2 linked regions of the Homo sapiens genome follow. Changing the gene in region 2 together with the main gene of any one other region gives a genetic interaction. Each region holds a gene or a part of one and is shown on either strand. Other genes may lie near its edges.

Region 1 (3,653 bases), about 72 Mb from region 2:
TCTGAAGCACTCAAACACCAAGTCTACTCAAATACGCTTCCCAAGCAGCTTTTCTGTACATCTCTGCTGCTTCCAGACGATCAGCTGCTGAGATTATGCCACGACCTACAATGATGATATCGGAACCTCGTTTGCCAATAACTTCTTGTGGGCTATTGTACTGTTGGCCAAGATTATCTCCTGCAAGAAACACAAAAATTGTTGTTTCACATAATACAAAAATCAGAAAACCTGTCACATGACTTCTCTGAAAAAGTATCTAACCAGCTTTAAATAAAAACATGCCCCTACTTTCGTTCCCCTTTTGTACAGCAACTGCGTAAAAACAGGAGCTGAAGAGACTCACTGGGTAGGCCAGAGACGTCAAATGGAGAAAGATGATCACCAACTCCTTTTCAATGGTAAAGTTTATTTTATTTATTTATTTATTTATTTATTTTTATTTATTTATTTTTTTGAGACGGAGTCTCGCTCTGTCACCCAGGCTGGAGTGCAGTGGTGCTATCTCGGCTCACTGCAAGCTCTGCCTCCCAGGTTCATGCCATTCTCCTGCCTCAGCCTCCCGAGTAGCTGGGACTACAGGCGCCTGCCACCACGCCTGGCTAATTTTTTGTATTTTTTAGTAGAGATGGAGTTTCACCGTGTTAGCCAGGATGGTCTCGATCTCCTGACCTCATGATCCGCCCGCCTCAGCCTCCCAAAGTGCTGGGATTACAGGCATGAGCTACTGCGCCCCGCCCTATTTATTTATTTATTTTTTTGAGACAGAGTCTTGCTCTGTCACCCAGGCTGGAGTGCAATGGCACAATCTCAGCTCGCTGCAACCCCCGCCTCCCGGATTCAAGCGATTCTCCTGCCTCAGCCTCCCGAGTAGCTGGGATTAAAAGCGTGCACCACCACGCCCGGCTAATTTTTGTATTTTGAGTAGAGACAGGGTTTCACCATGTCGGCCAAGCTGGTCTTGAACTCCTGACCTCAGGTGATCTGCCCACCTCGGCCTCACAAAGTGCTGGGATTACGAGCGTGAGCCCCCGCACCCAGCCTTATTTATTTTATCATTATTTTTTCATGTAATTTTTTTCCAGAAGCATAAATTCAAGTTGCCCTAAATATTCACCCCCTCAATGTCAAATTTTAGATCATCTGTAGCTTAACAATATATTAAAAAAAGAAGTAAAACTCATATGTTGCAAAGAAAGGTTCAATATCAAAAAAATACAATAAAGATTGGCCTCACAATTGAAGAAAATTTTAGCACACATCTTAGAATCACCACAAGGCACTGCTGAGCAAGTCTAACCTGACCACTACCATATACAAGAACCCCATCAAGTGGTCACACAGACTATCCATAAACCCGAATCCTTAAATTTTGCTTTTTTATTAAATTCCGCTGTTTCAGAAGCATTCTGTTAAATGGCTTATTATCTTCCAAATCCAAGATACTTTAAGTATTCTTAAAAGCCTAGACCCTAACTATAATATCTAGTCAAACAATTATTAGGGCTTACGAATAAGGGCTTATAAGTACAGAGTGTTTACTCTGTGCCAAGACATTGTGTTAAATATTCTACATGTTATCTCATTAAAGCATCTTGATTACCTTATGAGGTCAATACTGTTATCATCCCCATTTTACAGACAATTAGACTAAAAGAAGTAAACTGACTTGTCCAAAGATACATAGTTACCAAAGGGCTCATTCATTATTGTTCTAGACTAAGAAGGCTTTTCTTAAGCAAGTGTATAATAATATGCAAAGTTTTATTTTGCCTGCCATGGGTAAAGAAGCATTTTTGGAAGAGCCACGACCAGTGACCAGATTTACCTCCTGCTTCCAACTGAACTCCTGGAGTCAAGTGAAGAAATTCTGGTTTCATGCTTACTCGGGAGCCAGAAATAAAACCAACAACAAATTCAGAGTGCTCCTCAGCCATTCTAACCTAAATGGAATGTAATAGGACATATTATAAGAAAACAGTTAATCACACAGAATAAAAGTAAAAATATGCTCTATTTTTTCAAAACTTAAAAAAAAAAAAAAAAGACATGAGGTCTCCCTATGTTCCCTGGCTGGTCTTGAACCCCTGGGCTCAAGGGATCCTCCTACCTTGGCCTCCCAAAGTGCTGGGGTTACAGTTGTAAGTCACCATGCCTGGCTTATGCTCTATTATCTAGTTAGAAACTTTGCTGTATTATAGATGCCTTTTCTCATTCCATATATATAAAGTTACTATATCTGAAACAGGTCATCTTAGATAGAAACCATAATAAAACACATCTGCTTCATTAAGACTCTGAGATGACCCTTTCCCTTCCCTTCCCGCAATAAACCATACGTAAAGCAGAAATCCTATACTATATGCATCTAAAATCAAGATGCTGCATAATTTCTTATTTCTAATAATGCTTGGTGACCCACCTACTTCCAAAAAGGATTTGAGGCGAGTACTCTAGAACATATTATAATGGTATGAAACCACATTCAAGGCTTACTGACTATCTACAGACGGGGTACTCCATATCCAAAGGCAGCTGTCATGTAAAGAACAGCTACGCTTTCAAGAGCTAAAGAAATCTCACCTCTACCACTTTCCCTCTTCTGTAACATCAACTGGTCTCCCCAATTTCTATACTATTATCTCACATTCATAAAAGTCTCTTTAGAAGGTCTGCCTGGCTTTCTGATTCGGTAGGTACTTTCCCCGAGACGTGACTCCCATACTTCCCTTCTTATTTGATACTTCCCGGAGACCAGACTCAGTACCACCACTGCACTCCAGCCTCGGTACTTCGAGACCTGAGACACACATTGATACATTCATTCTTGCCACCAAGTACTACTGCCAACAAACAAGTCATGTCTTGTCCTTGAGCCAGACCCAGACTCCCAGAATGCCAAATATTAAAACTGACTCATGGCCCCTGTGATTTTGAGACTTGGGAAATCAGACAGTTATAGTCAATTCAGGGATAGGGTTAAAACCTGACTGTAGGGCCATATGAGTTAAGTCTCCAAATAGTCTGAAATAATATGAAAAAATGGAAATCCTTTACTTCTAGAATCTTCACATGGGGATTGTCTTGGGGATTTCATTTTTAAAAAAATCATGGGGATTTTCTTGGGGCTTTTTATTTTTAATTTTTTTTGACAGGCTCTTACTCTTGCCCAGGCTGAGGTAAAGTGGCATGATCATGGCTCCCTGCAGCCTTGAACTTCAAGCTCAAGCGATCCTCCCACCTCAGCCTCCCAAGCAGCTGGGACTATAGGCACGTACCACCATGCCTGGTTATTTTCTTTTTCATTTTTTTGTAGAGACGAGATCTCACTATGACGTCCAACTCCTGGCCTCAAGCAATCCTCCCGCCTTGGCCTCCCAAAGTGCTAGGATTACAGGTGTGAGCAACTGCGCCCAGCCCCCTATGGCAATTTTTTTAAAGTAATATTATATTCTAAAATATCTGACAAGAATAAGAGAAAGCCACTGCATGTGGGCTGCTGTCATGGGAATGTGCATCTCTGTAGGACTTGGGAGATTCTGAGAAACTGCATGTCTGGGAAGCTCTTCTCATCTTCTCTCAATTCATGGTAAGATGAAAAAGACATTATCTTAAAGTCCTGGTAGATTTAGTAAGTGTTTGTTTGACTAACT
Region 2 (3,653 bases):
ACTTTTAGTAGAAACGAGGCTTCACCATGTTGGCCAGGCTGGTCTCGAACTCCTGACCTCAGGTGATCCGCCCGCCGTGGCCTCCCAAAGTGCTGGGATTACAGGTGTGAGCCACTGTGTCCGGCCTTGGAAAGGTTTTAAATATCTTTTGGGGTCATAGAAATGCTAATACTTGTAGGAAAGCAATAAAAATAAAACTTACCAAGGGAAGACACCCCTGAAACACTTTTTTTTTCTTCTTGAGACACAGTCTCACTCTGCTGCCCAGGCTGGAGTACAGTGGCACGATCATGGCTCACTACAGTCTCAATCTCCTGGCTCAAGCAATCCTCCCACCTCAACCTCTCGAGTAGCTGGGACTATAGGCATATGTCACCAAGCTTGGCTGATTTTTTAAATTTTATTTTAAGTAGAGCTAAGGAAGGTCTTGCTATATTGTCCAGACTGGTCTCAAGCTCCTGAGTGCAAGCCATCCTCCCACCTTGGGCTCCAAAAGTGCTGGGATTACAGGTGTGAGCCACTGTACCTGGCCCCTAAAACATAATTTTATGTTTGTTTTCTGAATGAAGATATTTGAATTCTGTTCACTTGAAATTAAAGTTCATTTTATAATAGTGTACAATTTTAAGTATAAAAAGTGAAAATTTCTGTAAATTAAAAGTAAAAAATTTTTGTAAAATTTTTGTAAATACCTTTCATGGTATACTAAAAGGGCAGATCATAATTCCATCATATCGCATGGTTTAGAAATGAACATTCTGTACAAGAGTCACTAAACACCTAGTATATGCTTTTGTTTATTCAAAGCATTATAAAGAATTTATTAGTCTACGAGGTCAGGTATTCATTGAATGTGCAGGAACATAAACGCAAGCTGGAAAAAGAACTCTAAATTCCCCTCAATTGGTAATCTTTTTATATAAGGCAGACATTCAGCAAAAGGAAATAATTAAGAATACAGGAGGCTCTTAATGCTTCCCTTGTTCATCTTCCCACAGGTCTCTTTTACCTGCAAGGGGATCAGAGTGTTTAGTCTGGGAATACTGCCAGCAGTTTAGGAAAGCCAGCAGCCAACTGGCATGAGTCAGCACTGTGCTGTTACTAAATACTGTTGATGGACAAACTATTGTCACCTGAGTGAATTTTTCTCTTGTTACGTCTCACTGTTCAGATTCCTTCTATTTTAGCCTGTGAAGTCCTAGGTGATGTTGGGTAGCAGTGGTGGGTAGGGGTAGGGGTAAATGGTGATGAAGCATGAAGACTCTTAGAGATCAACATGGAAATCTACGGTATGTAGACTTCATTGAATTTATGAACTAATATTTCTGGGATGCCTAGCTTTGTTACTGATAATATAGTAGATAAAGGCATAGTTTATCATTCACTAAATTGATGCATCTCCATCAATTCTTATTAAGTACTTATTCTTAATAAGTACTATAAGCAATCACAATACTATCTTTGTTCACAAAGTTAAGAATGGCTCCCCGTATGTTTTTCTTTAAAAAATTTTTCCTAACTACTAAATTACCAGGGATCCCTTTTGTTTTTCAACAAAGCTCTGGGCATGAGGGTAAAACTGTGTGCATCACTATCTCATAAAAATACACCTTGGACTCTATCTTCCAGGCCTCAAAAGCAAAAAACAACCATGTCAACAATGGGAGAATGAAAAGAGCTAATTTCCTAGAGATACAAATCTTAATTCTTAAAATAAACATTTCATCTATAAGACATAAACGAAGTTCCTAATAATCTAGAAGACAAATACTCATTGAAAGACTCACAGAACTAACACCAAGATGTAATGGGGCTAAGCAGGGAGGAGAGGAAGGGAGGGGTATTAGACTTAAGGACTACTTAAGCCAAGAACAAGAACAGAAAGAAGTCTAAGCTACATGAAAGCAGAGTTTGTTTTGCCCACTGGTGTATTACATGCATCTAGAATATGCTCATTAAGTAGCCTCTCAATAAATATGTGTTGAATAAATGAGTAACTCCAAGAGTTTTTGACTGCAAGATGTCCCTCCATCCTTCTCTTTATTTCTACTCAATTGCTGAAGAACCATATTATTAAGGACCATTTCTTAAAAGTGTCACACATGGGCCTCACCAAACTGGCCCCAACTCTATCCCTGTCTCTTAAACATATCATATTCATTTCCTAACTCCATTTCTTTGCTCATAACATTCATCTTATTTGAAATATCCTCTGGCCTATTCATTTGAACCCTACCTATCATCCCATGCCTTTTAAGGAGAACTGTGGCCCACAGAGTTCCTTACATCACCATCTTTACTAAATATAAGGTTGTGGCATGTTGTCTCATGTGTGGAATTATTTTTCCCTTAAGCGTAAGTCCTGGCCCATCCATCAGACTTCAAGCTTTTAGAGCACAGAGCTCAAGGCTTATCATCTATGGCCGTGCTCCATGACTTGTCCTGGTAACTGGCTCAGGAGTAGCCCTCTGCAGTGGAGAGCAAGACAAGTCACATCATTTACTAGTTGTAAGACTATGGGTAACTTTTCTCTGCCTATGCCTCTAATTCTTTCACATGCAAACTGAAAAGATTATCACTTATCTAGAATGGCTATCATAAGGGTTAGAGATTGCCTTCATAAAGTGCTTAGCATGGTGCTTTACGAAGAGCTGGTGCTTAACACAAGCAGCAAATGTTACTATGTTTTTTTTCTTTTATTTGCAAAGACACTGAAAGCAAACATTACTACTTGCTTTTCTTTAAAGGTTCAGAGCAAATTCTGATTTCATAGATTCCCCAGCTGGCATTACACTGCCTGAAGGTCTAGTTCTAAACATGATAGGCTGTAAGCTCCAGGAAGGTAAGGTTTGTATCTTTTTTTTTTTTATATTTTTCCAACTGTCTCTAAGTGCACATATAAAATACACTGTAATTGCTGAATTTAATAGTCAAGTCTGCTATTGACATGTAGCAACGATATATCACAGATAAAAATTAGAAGGAAATTTAAGTTTAAAGTAAATCTAAATTTGATTGCTTCTTTTAGAACATTTAATGTCTTCAGCAAGCTCTTAAGGTGAGAAACCTGAGATTAAAAAAAAAAAAGAAACCCTCTGAGGTACTTAAAATGGTGATCAAATTTCTATCAGTCTAACCTCAGGACAACACCTTAGAGCTATTTTATTTAAAGCATTCGTGCACTGAAGCCAAACCTTAAAAGAAAAACGCTGTTACTATTTCCAATTAGAAACATTTATCTTTTTAAAAAACACATTCTATGAAAGGCTGTATTTTAAGTTTATGCTTTTCAAGAGATTTTCAATTTTGTCTTCCTCCTCACTGGCCTTAAACTAGATGACTTAGTGGTGTGCCTTCTCTCCCCCACAGAATATACTCACTCTTAAGAAGTTCTGGCTGATTAGAATTCAGAATAGCATGCTACCAACTACAAATCATGTATGTAAGTGGAAATAGTACATCAAAGCAATATTCTTTCATCTGTTTTGTATTAAATAGCACATATCCTCAAAATAAAAATGGCTTTGAAAACATACCGATTCATCCTTCTTGCTCGTTCCAATACTTCAAACATATGCTCTTGAAATAAATCAAGCCGACGGTAGCGATTATTTTCAACATTCTTCCTAATTATGTCAAATGTAAGGGGTGGT

Evidence for each region. A genetic interaction does not mean that the proteins touch.
Region 1: changes in PBRM1 (region 2) and UMPS together harm fitness more than expected from each alone (negative genetic interaction), as found in Homo sapiens cells (one large-scale study listed by BioGRID).

Annotation. Positions count from the first base shown.
Region 1 is NC_000003.12:124,740,442-124,744,094, reverse strand, and holds part of UMPS (uridine 5'-monophosphate synthase), read right to left. Parts: intron 1,944-3,653; coding exon 1,829-1,943; intron 181-1,828; coding exon 11-180; 3' UTR 1-10. UniProt on the Homo sapiens protein: Bifunctional enzyme catalyzing the last two steps of de novo pyrimidine biosynthesis, orotate phosphoribosyltransferase (OPRT), which converts orotate to orotidine-5'-monophosphate (OMP), and orotidine-5'-monophosphate decarboxylase (ODC), the terminal enzymatic reaction that decarboxylates OMP to uridine monophosphate (UMP).
Region 2 is NC_000003.12:52,605,777-52,609,429, forward strand, and holds part of PBRM1 (protein polybromo-1), read right to left. Parts: coding exon 3,537-3,653; intron 1-3,536. UniProt on the Homo sapiens protein: Involved in transcriptional activation and repression of select genes by chromatin remodeling (alteration of DNA-nucleosome topology). Required for the stability of the SWI/SNF chromatin remodeling complex SWI/SNF-B (PBAF).